7 linked regions of the Homo sapiens genome follow. The protein of the gene in region 3 purifies or fractionates together with the protein of the main gene of each other region. This does not show direct contact. Each region holds a gene or a part of one and is shown on either strand. Other genes may lie near its edges.

Evidence for each region.
Region 1: the proteins of CCNF (region 3) and ZNHIT6 purify together in Homo sapiens (affinity purification with mass spectrometry, with the first as the bait; 2 studies listed by BioGRID). This does not show direct contact.
Region 2: the proteins of CCNF (region 3) and AGK purify together in Homo sapiens (affinity purification with mass spectrometry, with the first as the bait; 2 studies listed by BioGRID). This does not show direct contact.
Region 4: the proteins of CCNF (region 3) and ARCN1 purify together in Homo sapiens (affinity purification with mass spectrometry, with the first as the bait; 2 studies listed by BioGRID). This does not show direct contact.
Region 5: the proteins of CCNF (region 3) and EIF2S1 purify together in Homo sapiens (affinity purification with mass spectrometry, with the first as the bait; 2 studies listed by BioGRID). This does not show direct contact.
Region 6: the proteins of CCNF (region 3) and DNAJA1 purify together in Homo sapiens (affinity purification with mass spectrometry, with the first as the bait; 2 studies listed by BioGRID). This does not show direct contact.
Region 7: the proteins of CCNF (region 3) and NAP1L4 purify together in Homo sapiens (affinity purification with mass spectrometry, with the first as the bait; 2 studies listed by BioGRID). This does not show direct contact.

The regions. Positions count from the first base shown.
Region 1 is NC_000001.11:85,698,434-85,701,933, reverse strand, and holds part of ZNHIT6 (box C/D snoRNA protein 1), read left to right. Parts: intron 1-3,500. UniProt on the Homo sapiens protein: Required for box C/D snoRNAs accumulation involved in snoRNA processing, snoRNA transport to the nucleolus and ribosome biogenesis.
Region 2 is NC_000007.14:141,641,910-141,645,409, forward strand, and holds part of AGK (acylglycerol kinase, mitochondrial isoform 1 precursor), read left to right. Parts: intron 1-3,500. UniProt on the Homo sapiens protein: Lipid kinase that can phosphorylate both monoacylglycerol and diacylglycerol to form lysophosphatidic acid (LPA) and phosphatidic acid (PA), respectively. Does not phosphorylate sphingosine. Phosphorylates ceramide.
Region 3 is NC_000016.10:2,453,447-2,456,400, forward strand, and holds part of CCNF (cyclin-F), read left to right. Parts: coding exon 1-91; intron 92-1,948; coding exon 1,949-2,118; intron 2,119-2,619; exon of another isoform or gene 2,620-2,954. UniProt on the Homo sapiens protein: Substrate recognition component of a SCF (SKP1-CUL1-F-box protein) E3 ubiquitin-protein ligase complex which mediates the ubiquitination and subsequent proteasomal degradation of target proteins.
Region 4 is NC_000011.10:118,592,909-118,596,408, forward strand, and holds part of ARCN1 (coatomer subunit delta), read left to right. Parts: intron 1-681; coding exon 682-790; intron 791-1,095; coding exon of another isoform or gene 1,096-1,158; intron 1,159-3,500. UniProt on the Homo sapiens protein: Component of the coatomer, a cytosolic protein complex that binds to dilysine motifs and reversibly associates with Golgi non-clathrin-coated vesicles, which further mediate biosynthetic protein transport from the ER, via the Golgi up to the trans Golgi network.
Region 5 is NC_000014.9:67,366,828-67,370,327, forward strand, and holds part of EIF2S1 (eukaryotic translation initiation factor 2 subunit 1), read left to right. Parts: intron 1-3,500. UniProt on the Homo sapiens protein: Member of the eIF2 complex that functions in the early steps of protein synthesis by forming a ternary complex with GTP and initiator tRNA. This complex binds to a 40S ribosomal subunit, followed by mRNA binding to form a 43S pre-initiation complex (43S PIC).
Region 6 is NC_000009.12:33,031,773-33,035,272, forward strand, and holds part of DNAJA1 (dnaJ homolog subfamily A member 1), read left to right. Parts: intron 1-2,443; coding exon 2,444-2,558; intron 2,559-3,500.
Region 7 is NC_000011.10:2,985,830-2,989,329, reverse strand, and holds part of NAP1L4 (nucleosome assembly protein 1-like 4), read left to right. Parts: intron 1-58; exon of another isoform or gene 59-201; intron 202-1,203; exon of another isoform or gene 1,204-1,253; intron 1,254-3,500. UniProt on the Homo sapiens protein: Acts as a histone chaperone in nucleosome assembly.

The sequences.
Region 1 (3,500 bases), on a different chromosome or scaffold from region 3:
CATTTGAGAAGCTTCTCAAACATTAATGTGCATACCAGTCACCTAGGCATCTTGTTAAGTATGCTTGTTGTGATTTTTCAGTAGGCCTGGGTTGGAGTTTGATATTGGGCATTTCTAACAAGCTCCTCAATGATGCTCATTGTTTGAGAAACATATTTTGAGTAGCAGCGCCCTGGAACACTCTCATACATTAGAAATAAACTGTTTCTTTGAGAACTAAGATACCAAGAAAGTATTTCAGGGGCTTCCAGGACAAAACGAGTAAAAACAGGACGCCTGTACTGTTTTAATCAAGGCAGCTCTGCTTTTATTTTCTTTCTCCACTGGGTTTCCAAATAAGATTTCAATTAAAAGCTGTCAATGTAGAAGAAGGGGACTTTGAACTCTTGAGTACAGATAATATAACAGAGATTAGTTTGCTGCTGTCTGAAAATGTTGGGTTGAAAAGGCCCCAAGAGTACAGAAGAGAACAGGATCCCAAAGTTCTTTAAGTAGCCAACTAAATTATCAGATAATACCTTTCAGAAGTCAAGATTTTGGATTTAGAATTTTTAAAAACTTGAGGGAGTCCCTCCCTTTTCAGCCTCTTAGTAACTGTGGGGCCTTGAACAAATCAACTTCCTTTCTCTGGGCCCCAGTTGTATGATGTGGGGAGTTGACCCGGGTAAACTACGGAGCCTTTCCAGTTGTACTCTTCCAAAAATTGAAAAGACAAAGCCATCAGAATTATCATTATTCTAGTGAAGCTTCTATCTTTTCAAAGCTGTTATCATAATTAGAAGATGACGTTTTCCATTTATTTTATATAAGACATAAACATTTGTAAAAATGGTTTTTCGTTTTTCCTGGTTGTCTTCGAAAAGTAAAGTAATGCTGAAGCAGGTGGATCCCTTGAGGCCAGGAGTTTGAGACCAGCCTGGGCAACATGGTGAAACCTCGTCTCTACTAAAAATACAAAAATTAGCCAGGTGCAGTGGCACCCACCTGTGATCCCAGCTACTCAGGAGGCTGAAGTGGGAGCATCCCTTGAGCACAGGAGGCGGAGGTTGCAGTGAGCCAAGATTGCACCACTGCACTCCAGTCTGGGTGACAGAATGAGACCCTGTCTCAAAAAAAAAGTAAAGTAATGTCTTGCATTTATCAAATGTGAGATGATTCTTTTGTGCGTTTTGAAACTGGCATATTTAGAAATTGACATAATTTGAAGTTTATGGTAACTGGTTAGAAGTTTATGGTAACTGGTTAGTGCTTTCTCAAATACAAAATGTGTTCCTGTTTTATGAAAGAAACTATTCAGAATGATTGTAATCAGAGATTAGTTCTCAGTAATGAAAAGCAGATGGCCTCAAGTATAACATTTTTGTGTCTGTAGGTACATGAATGTATGCGGGAAGTTTTTACCGAGAATATTACACTCAGTATATTTTCCAGGTTTAATATATTTTTGGTTGTTTTGAAACTCCCCGGGTCTCTGAAATGGCAAATCAGATTCTTCTTGCATAAGTCTTTTGCTCATAAATTTATAGAGATTTGTGATCAGTTTTCTTACATTTTTAGTGTTTCCCAGGAGGAGATTAGCAACATAGTATGTACTAATAGGCTTTAGAATCCATTTCTTAGTCTTTTACCGTCTGCAAAATGGAGCTCATGATAGCTACCTTGTAGAGTTGTGGCCTTTTAGTGTATTAATTCACATAGGCAGTAACTGGCATGTGGGAAGGAATCAGTTTATAGTAGCTATTGTAAAAATAATACATCTGTATCATTAAAAAGTTTAAAGGAAAAATATCACCTATAATTCCACTATCTAGAGTTGACCACTAATAAAATTTCGTAACATTTCCTTCTAATCATGTTTTCTCCTTTTTTCATCTAATAAAGTAAAACATAATATAAAATACTTAAAACTATATAAAGTGACATGACTCTGCTCAAGTTAAACATTAATTTTTTATGAATAAATGCACCTCCTTTTTTCCTGCAGCTAGATTTTCCATTTAGCAATACATTGTGAACCTCTTTTCTTGTTAATGCAAATCTGCCTCATTCTTTTTAAATAGGGTATTCCACCTTTGACTATATCTCATTTCATTTAATTATTCCGATATTCATGAACATTTATTTTATGTCTTGTTTTTAATTATTATACATAACACGGTATTAAACAGCCTTGAACAAATTGTTTTGTGTGCTTACCTGACTTTTTTTTGTAGGATCAATTCCTAGAAAGCGGAATTACTGGATTAGAGAGTACAATGTATTTAAACTTTTGAGAAAAACTCTACATTGTCTCCATAAAACATTACCACTTTGTACTTTCATCAAGAAAGTATGAGTGCCTATTTTAGTTATACCTTAACTTTTGTTGAATATTACCAAATTTTTTTGTGGGCAGCTTTATTAGAGAGGTTGAGCTCTTGGATTTTTAATTTCTTGTTAAGACATTGCCAGATGTCCACTGCAGGAGGCAGAATCACCCCCATTTGAAAAGCACTGATTTACATAAATACAGAAGATGTACTTATTGAATGTATAGTTCTAATCTTTTCTTGGTCCAGATAATTAACATAATGTAGACAGAATCAGGATTCTGGTGTTTTATACTTCACCTTTAAGAGGAAAAAATAGACATTTAAGAGTTACTTTGTTTGAGATATTTGTGTCTTATCAGCTGTTCATATGAAAATGAGCAAGGTTTTAGATGATTGCAATGGTATTTGCTGGAAAGAGGGAAGAAGGGGAAATGAAATTTTTTCAAAGAATTCTGTTCAGCTCCCATGCCCCCAGTATTCTAAGAGACTAGTTTTCAATACTTTTTTCTATTAACTTTTCAAAAGTTGGTTATAGCTTTGACTCTGATAAATGTAAATTTTCATGTTGTCTCTACTATTTGATTATACATTAGGTGACCTTGGGCAAAATCTGACTTACCAGGTTATTGAGAGGATTAAATGAAATTTTAATACCAACTAAAGTAGTACCTGGCACATACTAAATAATATACAGTGACAATGAAAATTTACATTCCCTTCACTGAAATCCTTAGGAATATGCCACATTTACTGTATATTCCATTCACCCCTCATAGGTCTGGGATAGCACTGTGTAATCAAACAGTACTATTTGTGCAGTGAAACCTATAAATGTTTACCTTATAATGGGTAAATAATGACTATAGATTTATTCAGTTAGGTTTTGCTGCTGAAGGAGTTAAAAATCTTTCAGTTTTGGAGATTTTGGAATTGTTGATATGAGAAGTTGGTCTTGTCCTAAGATTATTAATACTCCCTAGGTATTAAATTGATTGCTTGTTTAAGCAACTTGAGTTGCAATATAGTCAAAATCTCAAGTTGATGTCGCTTAAAATTTACATGTTTTCACTTTTGAGGAATCTGAATGAAGAATCTTTTGTACTGTTTTTGTAACTTTTCTATAAAGTCTACATTTATTTTTTTTAAAAAAAGTTTTAAATGTAAAAGCCCGTATATGAAGTGTGATGA
Region 2 (3,500 bases), on a different chromosome or scaffold from region 3:
TAAGTGTGCTTTTTTATTAGAAAAGCATTTGGTACCTAAGAAAAGTGACAATAGCTATAGTCCTCTCCCACTAATTCAGTTATTTTTATTTTTACCCTGTGGAGATAGAGAGGGCAGTGTCAGGAGAAAGAGGATGTGGTGTGCCTTTAAGGAATAACAGCAATGAGGAGAAGCTGCCACCTGCAGGAGTGGCATAAATGCTTCTGGGGCTCTGATTACATGTTCTGCTCATTGCTTAATTGGCATTCAGAGAACTTAGGGCAAGAGGGCTTTAGAAATGAAAATTAGCTATTCCCATTTGTCACTGGAAAAAAATTGTGGAACTTTTAGTTGAGTAAATATCCACGATTTTTGTGACTGTACTAAATATGTCAAATTAGATCCTCAGGAGAAAAATACCCACACACATACATCTGTATCTATATCTACATATTATTTATTTAGGCCCAATCTATAGGTATGCACTATCCCATACGGTAGCTATTAGCCACATGTGGCTAGTTAAATTTAAATTAATTAGAATTAAATAAAATTCAAAACTTAGTTCCTAAGTCACACTCACCACATTTCAAGTGCTCAACAGCCATATGTAGCTAGTAGCCATCATACTGGAAAGCACAGGTATACAGCCTGTCCGTCAGTGCAGAAGGTTCTGTTGGGTGGTGCTACTATAGACAACACACCCAAAAGTATTGAAATAAAGCAGGCATTGGCAAACTGGTCTGCCACCTGTTTTTATATAGCCCAGAAGCCAAGAATCTTCTAATTTTAAATGATGCAAAGAAAATCAAAAGAATAATTTTTGTGAACAGAAAAATACGTAAAGTTCAAGTTTCAGTATCCATAAATAAAGTTTTATTGGAGCACAGCCATATTCATTCACAAATATATTGTCTGTGGCTGCCTTTGTGCTACAGGGGAGAGCTGAGTAGTTGTGACAGATTGTATGGCCCAAAGCCTAAAATGTTTATTATCTGGTCACTTACAGAAAAAGTTTACTGACCCTAGTATAGAGAAAACCTTGGTAATTTATATCAATGAGAATGCCAATAGGAAAGTAATTGTTAACTGTGGACTAATTACATTCAGCTTGTATGCAAATTAGTCTGTTCACAGTTGTCTAGGCCAGTCTGAAAATTAGCAGATGGAGTTGGAATGTCGTGAAAAGTTTGATTCCAATATTAATAGAGTGATAAGTTTGATTCTAATATTAATGTTCAGAGTATTGAGATGTTTTCTAACTATGAAAATAATACATGTCCATTGCAAAACATTTGGAAAACATAGCTCCCTTCACCCTATAAAAAAAATTCTAGTTTGATTAAAGAACTAAATGTAAAATAATAAAATCATTAAAGTAGTAGGGTAAATGGCACACGTTTATACCTATGTAACAAGGCTGCGCCTCCTGTGTATGTATCCCGGAACTTAAAATAGAAGTTTGAAGTTAAAAAAAAGTATTAGGGTAAAATCTAAGTGATTATCAGTATAAAATTAAGGAGGACAAGGCCTCTCTAAGCATGACATTTAAGGCAAAAATCATATTGATGCATTTGTCTTTTTATTTAAAAAGACATTCTAAACAAACTTTTAAATGACATATTGGGAAAAATATTAGCATGTGATAGACCAGGAATTCACTTTCCTTTTAACAAGCTCTTAGGATAAAGCAATGAGAAATGGGCAAAGGACTAATATAAAAAGTGAGCAAGGGGTAAGAATAGAAAATTCATAAAAGAAATAAGCATATGAAAAAATAGCTTATATTTGCTGATTATTTACTACATGTGAGGCACCTGTCCTAAGAATTTTACATAATATTATGTAATCCTTATAGGTAGATATCTTTATCTGCATTTTGTAGGTAAGGAGACAGAGTGATTTCAGCAAAGAAATGCAAATTAAAATAGTAAGATTGAATTGTCATGACTAAAAAGCATGTTATAGATTAAAAGCTTAGTGGTGGTGTGTGTTTCTGATGGGAATATAGATTGGAACATCCTGTCTCAGCAATTTGGCATAGTATACATAAAGTGTCTAAAATATATGCATACCTTCTGCCCTATTAACTGTATTTCTAGGAATTTATCCTACTGGAATAACCTGATGAATATATAATGTAGGCAGTCCTTTTTTACATAATGGAAATCTGAAAAACACTGGTGAAAGTGGATATGTGAATGCTAAAAAAAAAAAAATAGATTCTGTTCCAGAGGAATTTAAAAGAGAAAGATAAAATGTCTAATTATACATCTCCTTTATACCAAGTCTTTAATAATATGTATTCCGAGTATTTTATTCATGTTCTTTACCATTGTTCTTTTCTCTGATGACTGAGTACCACTGAATGGATTGAGTTCAGTGAGTATGTGAGTGCGCTCAAGATTAGCCACACTCACAATGCCAAGTGCTTTTTATCTTTGTGCCTATTTAAAAGTATACGATACTGTGCCGCTTATCACTAGTAGCAGCAAATTCATTTGTTTCGTTTTTGCACAGTTCTTTATAAAAATAAAAGCAAATGCAATACAATAAAGGCAGTGTAGCTGCCGTGTAATAGCTCAAAATGTTCACTTATTAAAAGCAGCACATTCAGTGTATGAAAGAAGCTGTAGGAGTATAGAATGTGTGAAAATTAGGATCTCTTATACAACTATGCTCACTGTATAATAGTAAAATATTTGCAATGAACTAATCAGACTGAATAAATTTTGGTACATTTATTAAAAGTCATATCTATTTTATATATGTATTATTTTCTATCTATTGACATGGGAAAAATAGGTGAAAAGATTTGCAACATAGTTCCATTTTTCTTTAAAAAGGAAATACCCCCACTTATAAGTGAGTTTTGTGAATGATGGAGGTAAAGCTCCAATTTTATGTTCTTTCCAAATAGAAAGCCAGTTGTCCAAGCGCCATTTATTGAAATCTCCATTTTCCCCCATTGATCTTCAATAAACCTCTGCCATACATCATGTCTATATACATGTAAATGTTTCTAGTCTCTTTCTTCTATTGTTGTTCCATTTTCTCATATTTATACTAATACTCTGCTTCTCTTATTATAGTTTTATAATAAGTTCTATGTTTTTCTCTTTTTACACAGTCTCTTGGCTATTCTTAGCTCATTTGAGTTCTATAAATATTTTAGAATGTTTATTTTATTAAATTCCACATAAAAATGTTATAATATTGATCTCACTGCATTGTACCCATAGATCAATTTGGAGAGAAATGACATTTCTACAATATTGACTCCTCTAGCATATGAACGGGGTATATCTCTTCATTTATTTAGGTCTTCAATGTCTTTCAATGAAGTTTTATAGTTTTCTCTGGAATATCCTGTCTTTTGCTGGATATATTCCCAGTTATCTTAATTTTTATGCTATTCTAAATAATATCTATTAAAATTTCATTTTCTACCTGATTTAGTAGATGGACATATAATTGATTTTTATATCAATGCTGAATCAGCAACCTAATTAAATTATTAT
Region 3 (2,954 bases):
TGACACAAGACAGCCCCGACCCCCCGACTTTCCTCAGCACAGGGGAGATCCACGCCTTCCTCAGCTCTCCCTCGGGGCGGAGAACCAAACGGTTAGTTACCCTGCGTTCTGGCTGCGCCATACAATGCTGGCATCCTCGTGCCGGCCCAGTTCCCTCAGCGCTTCCTCACACAGAGAGGCCCCCAAGGCTTGTCAGGGGAGCAGCAGATCCCAGGACAGTGACCCTGGGACGGAGCCCTGCAGTCATGCCTCGGGCCCCTGCGTAACCTCCACTGTCTCCAGCCCAGGTCTCCTTCCTCAGAGGCTATTGCCTCTCGCTCTGACTGGGCTCCCTGTGGAGGAAGATGGTTTCGAGCACGCGGGAGCCTAGCCTGGCTCTAGCCCTGCCCGTGCCTGTCATGCGCGTCCTGGACTTCTCTGCTCCATGATGCTGCTGTCACTCCCGGCACTCGAGCTGTGACCTGAGTCACATCCCCAGCACTTCCCTCGCCACCCGTGTGGACCTGTTTACCCGCCTCTCCTATCTCAGCACCTTGGCTGTTCCTCCTGGAGTTAACTTCCTCTTTCTACCTCACCCGCCTGGAGAACTCCTACTGATTCCACAAGGCCCCGATGAACAGGGCCCTCCCTGTGCTGCTGGCCCTGCGCCGTGACCCCTCAGCACCATGTGCACCAGTAACCTTCCCAAGGGCAGGCACTGGGTGGCTGGGTCTTTCCTGTCAATATAGGACCAGGCAGGGCTGCCTCCAGAAGCGTTGTGTCGGGAGTGGGCTCCTGGCAGGAGACCTCAACTCCTGGGGAGCCCTGGGGAAGCAGCCAAAGCCCCTGCTGCTGCTTCCTCCCCAAGAAGCGTGACAGCACTTTCCATTGTGTGGAAGGCAGGAGACCTGACCCTCCTGTGTCACTCCACACACGCACCGACTCCCTGGGGCCAGGGTCATCACGAGGAAAGTCCATGCAGATACGCACGGCTACTCCAGGAGGGGGCCTGGCCCTGGCCCTGTGCTCAGCCTCGCTGTGTTAAACCCGCTTCTCAGAGGCCCCCCACAGCCCCATCAGTCTTCTGAGACAGACCCCCACGGGTGACACTGGGATAGCTCTCTCCACCCCCCGCCCTCCACCAGGCCCTGGGGTCAGGAAGTGGAAAGGCTCAGCTGGTGTGGCGGCTTTTCCCAGGCTCACGCCCACACACTGGCCTCTAGCCCCATCCTGAGCAAGACTTGACCCCAGTTGGGTGTGGGTGTCAGCACCGCCCAAGGCCAGGCCATTCCATGCAATCTGCCTGGCGCCGGGCTAAGCACTGCCTGCACCTTATTAATCAACACCAGAGGGGCCGGGTGCGGTTGCTCATGCCTGTAATCCCAGCACTTTGGGAGGCCGAGGTGGGCGGATCACCTGAAGTTAGGAGTTCGAGACCAACCTGCCCATCATGGTGAAACCCCGTTTCTACTAAAAATATAAAAATTAGCTGGGTGTGATGGCGGGCACCTGTAGTCCCAGCTACTCAGGAGCCTGAGGCAGGAGACTCACTTGAACCCGGGAGGTGGAGGTTGCAGTGAGCCAAGATCACACCACTGCACTCTAGCCTGGGCGACAGAGCAAGAACACCTCAAAAAAAAAAAAAAAAAAAAAAAAACACTGGAAGGTGGCATCATCCTAGAGGTTTCCAGGGGACCAGATGGTTGGCCCACGCCCCACAGCTGAGCCGGGTGGGCTGGGCTTCACACCCAGACCTGGGGCCTGAGTTTGCCTGAGCTGTCCTCCAGGTTGGCCCTGCCTGAAGGGCTTATACCTGTTCTAGCTTCACCGGCATCTTCTTCGTAGCAGAACCTTTGGGAGCACGTGGTGACAGGCTGGGGCACGCGGGTGTTAGAGGCAGGTGTGGAGGGCCTGGCCTCCCAGCGCCGCCGTCCATGACTGGGTCTCCTGGGCTCTCTCCACCTTGCAGGAAGCGGGAGAACAGCCTCCAGGAAGACAGAGGCAGCTTCGTTACCACCCCCACTGCGGAGCTGTCCAGCCAGGAGGAGACGCTGCTGGGCAGCTTCCTCGACTGGAGCCTGGACTGCTGCTCTGGCTATGAAGGCGACCAGGAGAGTGAGGGCGAGAAGGAGGGCGACGGTGAGTGTGGGGCCAGGGTGCACCAGAAGGGACATCACACAGAGGGTGGCTCTCACCGAGGGCCTCTGGGCACCCGGCCCTGTGCGAGCGCTGTGGGAGGAAGATGTGCACAGAGTGCGGGGTGGGGCCAGCTCCTGCCCCGCCGGGGAGTGTGTCCAGACATGGGGAGAGAGGAGGGGAGAGCCCCCAAAAGACCACAGCTGCTCCCACCACACAGGGATGAGAGGACTTAGGCCACACCTATCCGGCTCCTGCTCATTCCGTGTTGGGAGGACCTCACTAGGATGAGGGAGGCAGAGACCCTGTCTGGAGTTCATGGAGATCCTTCTAGGCCTGTAGTCTCATGCCTGTAATCCCAGCAATTTGAGAGGCTGAGGCAGGAGGATCACTTCAGGCTAGAAGTTCAAGACCAGCCTGGGTGACACAGCAAGACAAAAAATTTAAAAATTAGCTGGGCATCGTGGCGTGCGCCTGTGGTCCCAGCTACTCAGGAGGCTGAGGTGGGAGGATCTCTTGAGCACAGGAGGTGGGAGCTGCAGTGAGCCGTGATCATGCCACTGCACTGTAGCCTGGGCGTTCTTTCTAGAATGTTGTTTGAGGTGTGCCCACGTGGTATACGTGACACTCCTCACTGCCCTGCTGGGATCACTGCCCTGTGCAAACCCCAGGCAGACTGCGGGGTCCTTGCCAGAAGCCCAGTTAGTGTGAGTCCTGTCAGTTTCCCGGTTGCTTGCTTCTGCGTCCACTTGGCTTGAGCTAGATGGCCAACTTGTCATCTCCACATTTGTTGGAGTCATGGCGGGCAGCTGTCCAACTTGGAAGAGGCATGTCACCCA
Region 4 (3,500 bases), on a different chromosome or scaffold from region 3:
TAGCCCTTGCTGGTACACTTTTATTTTTATTACCATAGCAAAGTTCTTTCTGACAAAATGACTTTCTTTTGAAATGGACCTGGTGCTGCATTTTGTATATTTTTATCATTAGTTTTCATTTTTAATAGCTTTCATTTTGAAACCATTGTAGTTTTGTTGTTGTTATTGTTTTAGAGACAAGGTCTTCTTCTGTTGCCCAGGCTGGAGTGCAGTGGGGCAATCATAGCTCACTGCAGCATCAAACTCCTGGACTCAAGCCATCCTCCTGCCTCAGCCTCTTTAGTAGCTGGGACTAGGACTATAGGCACATGCCACCACATCCAGCTAACTTTTTTTAAAAGACACAAACTCCCTCTGTCACCCAGGCTGGAGTGCAGTGGTGTGATCATGGCTCATTACAACCTTGAACTCCTGGGTTCAGCTGATCTCCCACCTCAGCCTCCTGAGTAGCTAGGAGAACAGGGAAGTGCCACCACGCCTGGCTTTTTTTTTTTTTTTTTTTGGTATAGGTGGAGTCTCACTTTGTTGCCTAGGCTGGTCTTGAACTCATGGCCTCAACCAATCCTCCCACCTCGATCCTACCACCTTGGTCCTCTAAAGCGCTGGGGTTACAGGCATGAGCCACTGCACCCAGCCATCTTTTTCTAATATTCTAGTATGACTGCTTTGCTTTCTCCTCAGTTAATTGCTGGCCCTCGGAGAGTGGAAATGGCTGTGATGTCAACATAGAATATGAGCTACAAGAAGATAATTTAGAACTGAATGATGTGGTTATCACCATCCCACTCCCGTAAGTGCTGTCCCTGTGTCCTCTACGGTGGACTTAGAGAACTGGTCTTTTGGAACTCATTTTGGAGTCAGCACCTACCTGACCTGACTGTCCATTCAAAGATACTTCTTTAAAAAGCTAGTTGTGAAAGAAGCCAGATACAAAAGGCTGCATGTTATGTGATTCCACTTCTTTGTCTTTCTGGAAAAGGTAATACTATTGAATAAAAATGAGGAGGTAGAGAAGAAGGTACTTCACTTCAGAGGGGCACAAGGGAACTTTTGGGAATGATAGGAATGTTCTAGGACTTGTGTTTGCTTTGGCAGCACAGGTACTAAAATTGGAACCATACAGAGAAGATTAGCATGGGCCCTGTGCAAGGCTGACATGTAAGTTATGAAACATTTCATATTTATAAATAAGTAAAGCAAGGAAATTGTTTTTTTGAGACAGAGTCTCACTCTGTCACTGGAGGTCACTGGCACGATCTCAGCTCACTGCACCCTCCACCTCCCAGGCCCAGGCTATCCTCCTGCCTCACCCTCCCGAGTAGCTGGGACTACAGGCGCACACCACCACGCTTGGCTAATTTTTGTATTATTTGTAGGGACGGAGTTTTGCTGTGTTGTGCAGGCTGATCTCAAACTCCTGAGCTCAAGTGATCTGCCCGCCTCGGCCTCCCAAAGTGCTGGGATTATAAGCGTGAGCCACCACACCCAGCCAAGAATTGCTCTGTGACTTGATTGTGGTGGTGCTTACTGCATACACTTGTTGAAATACATTGAGCACTTGGAAGGGATGGATTTTACTGACTTTAAAACCAAATTGAACAAGCCAGTTGTAGATCTGGAGCTGTTTTTATTTATTTATTTATTTTTTATTTTTATTGGAGACTGAGTTTCACTCTTGTTGCCCAGGCTGGAGTGCAATGATGTGATCTCGGCTCACTGCAACCTCCACCACCTAGGTTCAAGTGATTCTCCTGCCTCAGCCTCCCGAGTAACTGGGGTTACAGGCATGTGCCATCATGCCCAGATAATTTTTGTATTATTAGTAGAGACGGGGTTTCACCATGTTGGCCAGGCTGGTCTCAAACTCCTGACCTTAGATGATCTGCCCGCCTTGGCCTCCCAAAGTGCTGGGATTATGGGCGTGAGCCACCGCACCTGGCTATTTTTATTTTTATTTTTTTGAGACAGTCTCACTCTGTCAGCCAGGCTGCAGTGCAGTGGTGCAACCTTGGCTTACTGCAACCTCCACCTCCCAGGTTCAAGCGATTCTCGTGCCTCAGTCTCCCAAGTAGCTGGGATTACAGGCGTGTGCCACCACGCCCAGTTAATTTTTGTATTTTTAATAGAGATGGGGTTTCACTATGTTGGCCAGGCTGGTCTCAAACTCCTGTCCTCAAAATGATCCACCTGCCTTGGCTTCCCAAAGTGCTGGGATTACAGGCGTGAGCCACTGCACCTGGCCTGGAGCTGTTTTTAGATGTTGGTCCTCAGCTTGTTTGTGTAGTAATGAAGATTTCCAGAAGGAGGAGCCATTTGTCAGTCAAACTTTCTGTTTTGCAGGTTTCAAAGAAATTGAGTCTATCGGGCTGAATGTTTCATTTTCACGTGCTAGTCTCTAAACTTTCACTAAAGATGAGAGTGTGTTCAAGGGAACTGTTGATTCTTGTTGAACAAGATGTCTACATTAGTTACAGTAAATTTCCTAACAGCCCTTTTGGAGCATAATTTATATACAATAAACTACACATATTTTAATTGTATAATCTTGACATGTTTACACTTGTGAAACCACCACCATAATCAAGATAACAAAAATGTCATGTCAACCCCAGAAGTTGAGTTCCAATAAGCTTTTGTTGTACACTTAAATGGCCCACTATCTAGGATCAACTGGAAATGGTCTCTACCTTATCTTTTTAGTAACATTTACAGTGAGCATGCAGTTATTACTTCACAGTAAATCCTAGCTCCTTTCACCTACCCATCAGCCCTCATGATTAAGCACAATGTTTAATTATGAGCACCAGTAAGTGTATTCTTAGTGTATCTTTACTGTTATGTCGCTCAGTTATTGCTGCAGAGAAAATGGTACTAATTTGCCAGGCGCAGTGGCTCACGCCTGTAATCCCAGCACTTTGGGAGGCCGAGGCGGGCGGATCACGAGGTCAGGAGATCGAGACCATCTTGGCTAACACAGTGAAACCCCGTCTCTACTAAAAATACAAAAAATTAGCTGGGCCTGGTGGCGGGCGCCTGTAGTTCCAGCTACTCCGGAGGCTGAGGCAGGAGAATGGTGTGAAGCCGGGAGGCGGAGCTTGCAGTGAGCTGAGATCGCGCCACTGCACTCCAGCCTGGGTGACAGAGCGAGATTCCGTCTCAAAAAAAAAAAAAAGTACTAATTTAATTCATAGTTTTCTTCCCTTTTTGATAATTCAAGCCTTTACATTATCAGGTCTGGTTTTAGTCATTCTTGTTTCCAATTTTAAAAATATACTTTATTACCAGTATCCCCTTTAATGGGTAACCATCTTATCCTCTACAGTATGGTTATTGCTTCAGAACAATAGATGGCTGCCTTGAACTGTTGTAGGACTTGGGTGTTGGTGACAGGTAGAGTTTTGTTTGTCAAGATTTAGTTTACTAGACTATTTATAGAATGCTACAATTTTGAGGCCTGTCTACCCTATAATTGTGGTTGTGGTGGTTTCCTGTATTCTAGT
Region 5 (3,500 bases), on a different chromosome or scaffold from region 3:
ACTTATAAGAAAGGGTATGTTTTCTGTTTTACACCTTTTTTTTTGACCTAAGTACATGCTGAAGACAGCTTCAAGCCAGGCAGCTAAGGTTCTAGCAGAAAATTTATGGTCTTATTGGCTTTAGAACTGGAGGCGAGAGTTGTAGACAACCATAGTAGATGGAAACTGGTGGTGATAGTGGTGAGGGTTAGAGAAAGGAGGCGGCAGGCACAAAGGGAGATCCCCTAAGTCTATATAAATTCTTCCCAAATCTCTGGTTTGTCCCTGAACTACTGAAACACAGGGTGGACTCCAGGTAGCCTAATAGGGGAAAAATCTGAACAGATTTCAGTTGCTTACCATCTGGGGAGACAGAGCTTATAGTTTTGAGTTCAGATTCTGACTGCCTGCTAAAACAAAAAATCTATATTCTCTTTTTTTGGGGGATGGAGTCTCACTCTGTCGCCAGGCTGGAGTGCAGTGGCACGATCTTGGCTCACTGCAACCTCCGACTCCCTGGTTCAAGCAATTCTCCTGTCTCAGCCTCCAGAGTAGCTGGGATTACAGGCACACACCACCATGCCCAGCTAATTTTTGTATTTTTGGTAGAGACAGGGTTTCACCATGTTGGCCAGAATGGTCTTGATCTCCTGACCTTGTGATCCACCCGCCTTGGCCTCCCAAAGTGCTGGGATTACAGGCGTGAGCCACCACGCCCCACCCCATCCAGGTCACTTTGTGCTAAGTGTTCTACACTTGGTCAGCATTCTCATAAATACGGTGCATGGAATGGAACACGGTGGGCACGTTGCGTGAACTCACAAATTCAAGACCAGCTGGGGCAACATGGCAAAACCTCATCTCTACAAAAAATACAAAAATTAGCTGGGCGTGGTGGTGCACCCTGTAGTCCCAGCTTCTCGGGCGGCTGAGGTAGGGGGATGGTTTGAGCCCAGGAGGCGGAGGCTGCAGTGAGCCAAGATTGCACCGCTGCACTCCAACCTGGGTGATAGAACCAGACCTTGTCTCAAAAAAAAAAAAGAGAGAGGTGAAGGAAGTTCTTTAAGCTGAAGAGATGTGATGACCTGACATGGAAAATATATAGGTAAATGTAAAAGACTATTTTTGCCCTTCTTAGTTTCTTTAAAAATATATTTAACTATTTGTCTCATTTGTGCCTGTGGGATTGTAATCTATAGAGGTGACTGAGTGATGACACAGTCCAATGCCCTTGAAAGAAAACTTTTACTACTTATATTGCCTGAGAGAAGGGGGCTTGATGTGCCATGCAGGGCCACATGGGGAAGCACCAGTTTTAGTCAGGAGTCACAAGGAACTAGGGGAAAAAGTAGGTCAGAGCTTTTGTTGGAGTTTCTGCAGGAAAAGCAAGGCAGAGCAGCGTAAACGGCTTGCAGTTGGCTAGTTTGAATGCTTTTGGCGGGCCTTGGGGCATAAAGACTGCCCTGCTTGTCTAATACCTGGCCCTTGACTTACAGCAGGGAGAATTTTGGCTTGGTGTATGAGTTTATGGGCTCCAGATTGGCTGCTCTGCATAAGAAAGGCATGCTACCAAGCAAGCCCTTTGCTGACTCCTCCCCACCTGACGGAGGGGCAGTCTCTCCACAAATGTCAGAGCCTCAAGAATACAGAAAATAAGAAAATATTTAGTTACTACTAATAATATTAATAATAAAATATATAGTTAATACAGTTGGCTCTGTGATTAATGGATGCCAAGTAGTTAAATATAGAAGCTAAGAAAACAGAATACTGTTTAAAGCAGGCTTAGTACACTTGACAACTTAATCACAAAGGCCAGGAGGTGTGGGGTAAATAGATCTATATGATTCTTAACGATTCTTACATTTTATGTGCAGTAGTAAAATTAAAAGGTTAAGGATGTATATTGTAAATTCTAGAACAACCATTAAATAAGCCAGTTGCAGTGGTCTGTGCTTGTAGTCACAGCTGTTCGGGAGGCTGAGGTGGGAGAGTCACTTGAGGTCAGTAGTTCAAGACCAGCCTGGGCAACATAGTGAAACTATCTCTAGAAATAAGTAAGTAAAATACAAAATACACTATTGTAAAAGCCAAAGATATATTAAAATGGAATTCTAGAAAACATTAACCTAAAAGAAAACTCAAAAGAAAAAAACAAAAACCAGAAAGAACAAATAGAAAACAAATACCTAAAATGTAGGTATTCAATTATTCAGTTATTGATACAACTGAATTCATTTATATCAGTAATTAAATGTAAATCAAGTAAATATTCCAGCTAAAAGGCAGAGATTGTTAGGATGAATTAAAAAGCAAGACTCGACGATAATCCTGTCTACAAGAGATATACTTGGTTGAAAATAAATGGATATAAAAAGATATGCTATGCAGACAATACCTTAAGGAGACAGTGTCTATTAATATTAGATAAAGTAGATTTAAAGACATAGTATTTTCAGATTTAAACAGGGACATTTTGTAATGATAAAGGGTCAATTTGTTAGAAGGAAAACAACAGTCATCACTGTGTATGTGCCTAATAATAGAGTTCAAAATATAAAGCAGAAATTGAATTCAAGAGAGAAATAGACAAATCTATAATCATAGTTGGAAGTTTGAACAAGCTCTGAACAATTGGAGAAACAATTAGATCAATGAAGACCTTGACTTGTTTGATACCTAGAACACTGCACCCAGAAAAGGCAAAATACACATTATTTTCAAGTGTGCATGACATTCACCAAGATAGACAATAAGGTGAGCTATAATATTAATACAACTCTAAATAAATTTCTAAGGGTTGGAATACAAATATGTTCTCTGATCACACTGGAAGTAATTTTGAAATCAGTGTCATATCTTGGGAGGGAAGAGTTTGCAGTATTAAATAAGCCCTTCCAAATAATTCATATATTAAAGCCTTAAGGGAAAATTTATAGCTTTAATTACTTATATTAGAAAAGAATAAAGATCTAAAACAGTTATCTAGGCTTTTGTTTTAGAAGATAAAAGAAAGGAAAGGTAAACTCAAAGTTGCTGAGACCAGCTCTGTTGGGGAGACCCTAACCCAGAGGCGCTAGAGGAATTAAAGACACACACACACAAATATAGGGGTGTGAAGTGGGAAATCAGGGGTCTCACAGCCTTCAGAGCTGAGAGCCCCGAACAGAGATTTACCCACATATTTATTAACAGCAAACCAGTCATTAGCATTGTTTCTATAGATACTAAATTAACTAAAAGTATCCCTTATGGGAAATGAAGGGATGGGCCGAATTAATTGCAGCAGGAACACGTCCTTAAGACACAGATCACTCATGCTTTTGTTTGTGGCTTAAGAATGCCTTTAAGCAGTTTTCTGCCCTGGGCGGGCCAGGTGTTCCTTGCCCTCATTCCTGTAAACCCACAACCTTCCAGCTTGGGCGTTAGGACCATTATGGACATGTCGCAGTGCTGCAGAGATTTTGTTTATGGCCAGTCTTGGGGCCAGTTTATGGCTAGATTTTAGGGGGCTTTCTCCC
Region 6 (3,500 bases), on a different chromosome or scaffold from region 3:
ACTTGCCCATCTATTATATTTAAATGCTCCGTTAATTGATTTGATAGACTACCTTTCATTTTTTTAGACTTGACACTTCCCTAACCCATTGGGCTCCAGATTTAGAAATAACTATATAACCTTTTTTTTGTATTCTCGGGATTTGATTGATTTGTCAATTTTTAAATTTTACTCTTGTCAACTTGCAAAAACATTTTAAAATGTATTACAGCAATACACTGCAGAAATTTTAAGAAATGTATATAACCCCAGAAGGAAACTTAAGTCAACATTATGGTAATCTCTTTTCAGATTTTGCTGTTTATAAATGGGTCTACTATTATACTGTACTGTGGTATGATACCAATCTGGAACTGTTAATATTTGAACATATTTCCATATTAATATACAAATCTACATTAACATAAGTGGCTGCAATAGGATTCTATCATGTGACTCATGATACTGGCCTCTCTGACCCCCAGGGTTCCACCCAAGAATGTAGTACATTGAAAGGTAAAAATAAGTTTCCTTGGCCAGTTGTTGAACTTAATAAATCTGTGTTTACCCCTTAGTGGGCCCATGCCTAAGGTTTATACTTTGAGGTGTTCTTGATACCAATAGCATACAGAGTAAGTCTTAACGTTGTTGATAGGTTCTTGGAAACTGGGACTTCTAGCAGAATGACCTCAAATAATGTCATGCAGGTCCTCAAATAATGTCATGTCACTGTAACACAGCTGAGGGGAAAAAAATTGGTCTTGTTATGTGTCATTTCATTTAAAGCAATTTCCAAGAACCTATCAACAATGGACTGTAAGTGAGAACTTGAAATTAATGCCCTAACTATATAGCAAGTGAAGGCATTTGTGCTGTGCCTACTCTTACTCTGTATTCAGGAAAACCTAGCTGAGTTTAATTGCTTCCCTAGCATAACAAGTTATTTTGCCTCAATACACGATTAAAGACAGATTGTTTAATTTTGTCAGTGTATGATACTGATAGCGCTTTAAGTCCTTATTTAAGAGGTACGTACTGAAGTATTTGTGGGTTAATGGATATAGTTGGAGTTTGCTTGAAAGTATATGTGGGGGGCATGCGTAGGGGTGTAATACATGAAATATTAGTCATGAGTTAGTAACTGCTGAAGCCAAATTGGATGGATATGTAGGAATTCATTGTACTGTTGGCTCTGTTTATACAGGATTAATATTTTCCATACGTAAAGGTGAAACATGATTGCTCTGTTAGGTAACCAGAGTGATCTTGGGAAATAATCAGGAGATAACTGCTTTGGTGTAATACTCTACAAACACAGGTTTTCTTACATGAGTTATGTTCTAAGAGACGTTGCCCAAACCCTTACTGAACTAAAATATGTGGGTCAGAGGTGAGGGGCACGAAGTCTCAGTTTAAAAAAAAAAAAAAAGGCGTGTTTTTTTGCCCTGTTAGAAAATACTCCTCCCCTTGTATTTTACGGACCACATGGGCTAAGGGAGTGTCTAGCACTGATTGTTTTGTTTGCTTGTTTAATTTAAATGAGACAAGGTCTGGAACTCCTGTGCTCCAGGGTGCTATCCTCAGGGTATCCTCCTGACTCGGCCTCTCAAAGTATAATTACCCTTTTTTTAAGGGGACTATACTGAATAGTTCTTTAAAATACGGATTTTCAGGCACAGGGGCTCAGGTCTGTAATCCGAACACTATAGGATGCCGAGGCAGGATCCCTTGAGCCCAGTAGTTCAAGACCAGCCTGAGCGACATGAGAACCCCCATCTCTATTAAAAAAAAAAAAATTCAAAAATTAGCTGGTCTGTGGTCCTGGCTACTCGGGAGGCTGAGGTGGGAGGATCACTTGAGCCCAGGAGATGGAGGCTGCAGTGAGCCATGTTTGTGCCACTGCACTCCAGCCTAGGCAACAGAGCAAGATCCTATCTCAAGAGAAGATTATAGATTTAAAATTTTTTTAGTTTTATATATAAATACTACAATAGAAGGGTCTTGATTTACATTGCTGTTAGACTTTTAATAGAAGTAATTTGATGTGTTATAAGTAATGAAACTGAAATACTTAATTAACATTTTTTGGTTATAACCAGTGTTAGCCAGTCATGGTTTAGTACCAGCATATACCTGTTGAGTTAATACTCTAAATATTGCTAATGAGGTGTAGGTGTCTGTGGGAAAGTTGAAACTTGGAAAGGATATGCAGCTTACTTCCCCAGGGTAATCCAGCCAGTGAATAGCAGCTCTGAGATTTGAAGGCTAGTCTCTTTGCCTCTGGAGTTTGTGTTCTCCACTATGATACCTTTCTTCAGGAGCAAATTGGACTGAACTACTTAAGTGGGCTTTCTTAGTCATTTCTGTGATTTTTATGCATAAACAAACATCTATGTATAGATTTTATGATTCTGACCTTAGTTGGATATTTAATAAAAGTACAAAATTAATGTTTTGTTTTTAGGCATGAAAGATGGCCAGAAGATAACATTCCATGGTGAAGGAGACCAAGAACCAGGACTGGAGCCAGGCGATATTATCATTGTGTTAGATCAGAAGGACCATGCTGTTTTTACTCGGTAAAGACTTTTATCAACCACTCAAATTGATATCACATATTTGGGTTGTTGGTTTTGTTTTTTGTTTTTTTGTTTTTTTTAAAGTGTTTTCCATTACTCTTAGAACCTATTTCTCAGGAAGATTGTTAACCATTGTTCAGATCATAAGAGGTTGAATACATAGGATCAGATTTTTAGCTTTTTGTCTCTAAGTATGGAACGTTGAAAATGTGTTTCAATTAGATGTTTTGTGTGAACCTAAGCAGCAGATGGGTGGGGAAAACATCCCTGGACAAAAATTTGCCCTCAATCTTTGTAAAGCAATTTAAGTGCCTTAAAGCTCTCACCAGTTTTCAATCTCATTTATGATAAATTGAATTGCTTTTAATTATAAATATCCAAAAGCATCTCTGTAGGAAACTTAAATTGTAACTCAATACTAAGTATAAATTCAGGTCTACCATTTTGAGCTAAATAATGAGTATGATGAACACTGAAGCACAAGAAAGATGGATGATTAACAGCAAATGTTTGTGATCCATGGCTAACATAACACCCTCTGTGCATGCTATATTCCCAGCAACTTGGGAGGCTGAGGTGGGAGGATCACTTGAGGCCAGGAGTCCTAGCTACTGGGGAGGCTGAGGCAGAAGAGTGGCTTGAACTCAGGAGTTCAAGGTTATGATCATGCCACTGCATTCTAGCCTGGGTGACAGTAAGAACCCACCTTTTTTTTTTTTTTTTTTTAATGGAGTGGAGGTGAAATTGGGAACATCTTAAACTAGTTTAGGATTAATTAATATTTCAGCTTGGTTTGGTGGCTTACGCCTGTAATCCCAACACTTTAGGAGGCCGAGGTGGATGGTCAGGAGTTCAAGACCAGCCTAGCCAACATGGTGAAATGCCATCTCTGTTAAAAATTAAAAAATTAGCCAGGCATGGTGGCAGGCCCTGAGGCAGGAG
Region 7 (3,500 bases), on a different chromosome or scaffold from region 3:
TTGTTGGGAGTTTGGCCTGAGATTGCTAGCTAAGGAATGCTTGCTTTTTTGCTTAAAGGGAAAAGTGTTTTAGGCTTCCAGAGTAGAAATCTGATATTACTTCGTTTGATTCTTCGACCACTATGGTGATAGGAAGTAGCTGATCTCTGCAGGAAACTGCTGTTACCTGGCCTCAGCTGAATTTTTGTGGGACCTCCTGAGGTAAGCAAATTTATGCCTCCCGAAACTATAGTTGTAAGGTTTGTCTTTGAGCATATAGTAATGGAAAACCCTTATCAGTAGGTAGATAGTAAATAATTTTGTATTTGGCTGCTAATGAAATTTTTAAGAAATAGTTTGTGGTGATATAAATTAGTTTTCATCTGGCAGTCATTGGTTTTCCACCCTGCCCTCTTAAGAGAGAACAGGGTTGCTTTACTTTGTTTGCCAGAGCTTTACATTTTGCATTTAGTAACAGAGGCATTGTGTTTTTATAGTATGAAAACAACGAAAGATCACTTTGTGATCTTTACTTTTTGATTTTGACCACTTCCTGTGTAACCTTAAGTTTCTTACAAGTATCCCCTGTTAACTGTTAAAAACGAAATGTATGTTCATTTCATGTCCTTGGGACTTTTAAAAATGCGCTGTGCATTATCTGGAAAAGCCTGTTCAAAAACAAGATGAGATAATTTCTGTTTAATTTGTGGTAGAAAGAATGACTGTGCACTTTTATGTGCAAAGGTTTTAAGTATAATAATTAAAATAGTACTTGTTTACTCAGTTACCGAAAAGTAGCTTTCAGTGATTTGCATCTGTTTACTTATTCATGAGCATCTTCTATGTACTGGGCACAGTTCTAGGTACTGGGGCCTCCCGCAGAATAAAACAGAAGTCTTTGTCCTTGTTTCTGCTATGGGAGACAGACGAACAAGTTCAATGGTGGCAGGTGCTTTTGAAAAACAGTGCAGAGGAGTAGGGACTTTGGTGGTTGCAATATGAAATAGGTAGAGAGGGAAGTGCCTTATTGACAAGATGACAAGATCTTTTAATATGTACTGGATTAAGAAGTTAGCCTCATTGAGTCGTATGCTAATGAACTGCCCAGAAAAGAAGGGTGGAGGAGATGGGAGTGCAGCAGTAAAGACTGCTGCGCCCCAAGTAAAATGTAGTGTTTTGGTTAAGGAAAGGAAATCATTTTTTGCTTTCTTCTTGAAACCCCAGGGCTTGGCACCGCAGAAGTCTCTGAAGAGACAGTCTGCTGCTGTTTGGAGGCAGGTATTTCAGTAGATCTTGTAACCAAACATGAATGACTAAGGCAGTGTTTCTCCTCTGTGTCTTCAGAAACTGCTTGAGATGTGTGCATGCAGTCCCGGGCACCATGCGTGCTGGGTACTGGTAACACAGAGACAAGTTGTCATTTGGTAGCAGTGAGTTAAGCAAAGATTTCTTGGCAACCAGTCTCATCCCGAGTCTGTTGCTGGGCCTTGGGACTTCTGTATTGAGCAAGTAGACAGGGTCCCTGCCCTCGTGGAACTTGTTCTTTAGTGGGCAAACATGTATTATTCATTGCTTTTTTTTTTTTTTTTTTTTTGAGGTGGAGTCTCGCTCTGATGCCCAGGCTGGAGTGCAGTGGCGCGATCTCGGCTCACTGCAGCCTCTGCCTCCCAGGTTCAAGCAATTCTCCTGTCTCAGCCTCCCAAGTAGCTGGGATTACAGGTGCTCACCACCACGCCTGGGTAATTTTTGTATCTTTTTAGTAGAGACGGGTTTCACCATATTGGTCAGGCTGGTCTCGAACTCCTGACCTCAGGTGGTCTGCCCACCTGGGCCTCTCAAAGTGCTGGGATTACAGGCGTGAGCCACCGTGCCCAGCCTATTCATTGCTTTTAAACATTATCATGGGCCTGGCATGGTGGCTCACGCCTGTAATCACAGCACTTTGGGGGAAGCTGAGGTGGGCAGATCACCTGAGGGTCAGGAGTTTGAGACCCTCTCCCGCCTTGGGTGACAGAGCGAGACTCCACCTCAAAAAACAACAACAACAACAAAAAACCCAGAACATTATCATGGAAAGTTTAACAACATGATTAACTTCTGATCCTGGAGAGTGGTAATGATAGACTGGATCAGGAGTCTACTGGCCTGGGCAATAGAAATGAAATCTGGACTGTCTCAGGGCTTCGTATAATCACCAGCTTTTGTGGGTGGGGATGTTGGGGTGTCCTACAGGGGTATCTTGATTCCTTCTGAGAACAGATCATTTCTTTGTCCTTTCTGATGTCCTAATCTAAAACATCCAGTACTCCTGGAGGATTTGAACTTGTGCCCAATGGCTGGTCAGACTCTCTTGGATTGAGAATGTTGGATTGCCATTCCTCAGACTGAATGTGGGCCAAGCAATTGTGCTTTAGAAATTTATCTTAGAGTGCGGTGGCTCATACCTGTAATCCCAGCACTTTGGGAGGTTGAGGCAGGTGGATCACCTGAGGTTGGGAGTTCGAGACCAAGTCTGGCCAACATGGTGAAACCCTGTCTCTACTAAAAATACAAAAAAAAAAAAAAATTAGCTGGGCATGGTGGTGGGCACCTGTAACTCCAGCTACTTGGGAGGCTGAGGCAGGAGAAACTGGGAGGTGGAGGTTGCAGTGAGCCGAGATCGCGCCACTGCACGCCAGCCTGGGCAACAAGTGCGAAACTCTATCTCAAAAAAAAAAAAAAAAATTTACTACCATCCCTAATTTTGTAGGATATATAGGATTTGTAAGGAAATTATAAGGAGTCTTGTGAAAACATTAATTACATTTGAATTAATTTTAATCCTTCAGTTATCTCCCATAAAGACATTGAGGACCTTTGAGTTTATTAAGACAGAGTAAATATATAAAAGTTTTGGGGAGTACGACTACACTCTCTAGCTTTGTCTCTCAAACGTGGCCCAATTTTTTTTTCCTTTCTTTTTCTTTTTTTTTTTTTTGAGACAGGGTCTGGCTCTGTCGCCCAGACTGGAGTCTAGTGGGGCAATCTTGGCTCACTACAACCTCCGCCCCCCAGGTTCAAGCAGTTCTCCTGCCTCAGCCTCCTGAGTAGCTGGGACCTCAGGCGTGTGCCACCATGCCCAGCTGATTTTTGTATTTTTAATGGAGATGGAATTTCACCACGTTGGCCAGGCTGACCTCGAACTCCCGACCTCATGTGATCCGCCCGCCTTGGTCTCCCAAAGTGCTGGGATTACAGGCGTGAGCCACCGTGCCTGGCCATGGCCCAATTTTATAGTTACTCTAGCTATGGAGTAGATGTTTTCAGTTCAAAATTAGGAATTTAAGGTTATATTTTGTTACAAAAATCTTTAAAAATTTCATAAGAAAACAGTTGTTTGGGGTACAAAGAAATTAATCCATAAATAGGATTGTTACAGTGACTAATATAAATAAAAGAACATTTGTGTAATCATGGGAATTATTTTATTTTATTTTTCCTCGACCCAATTAACTGGGTGAAAATTTGCTTGCCAGTTCAGA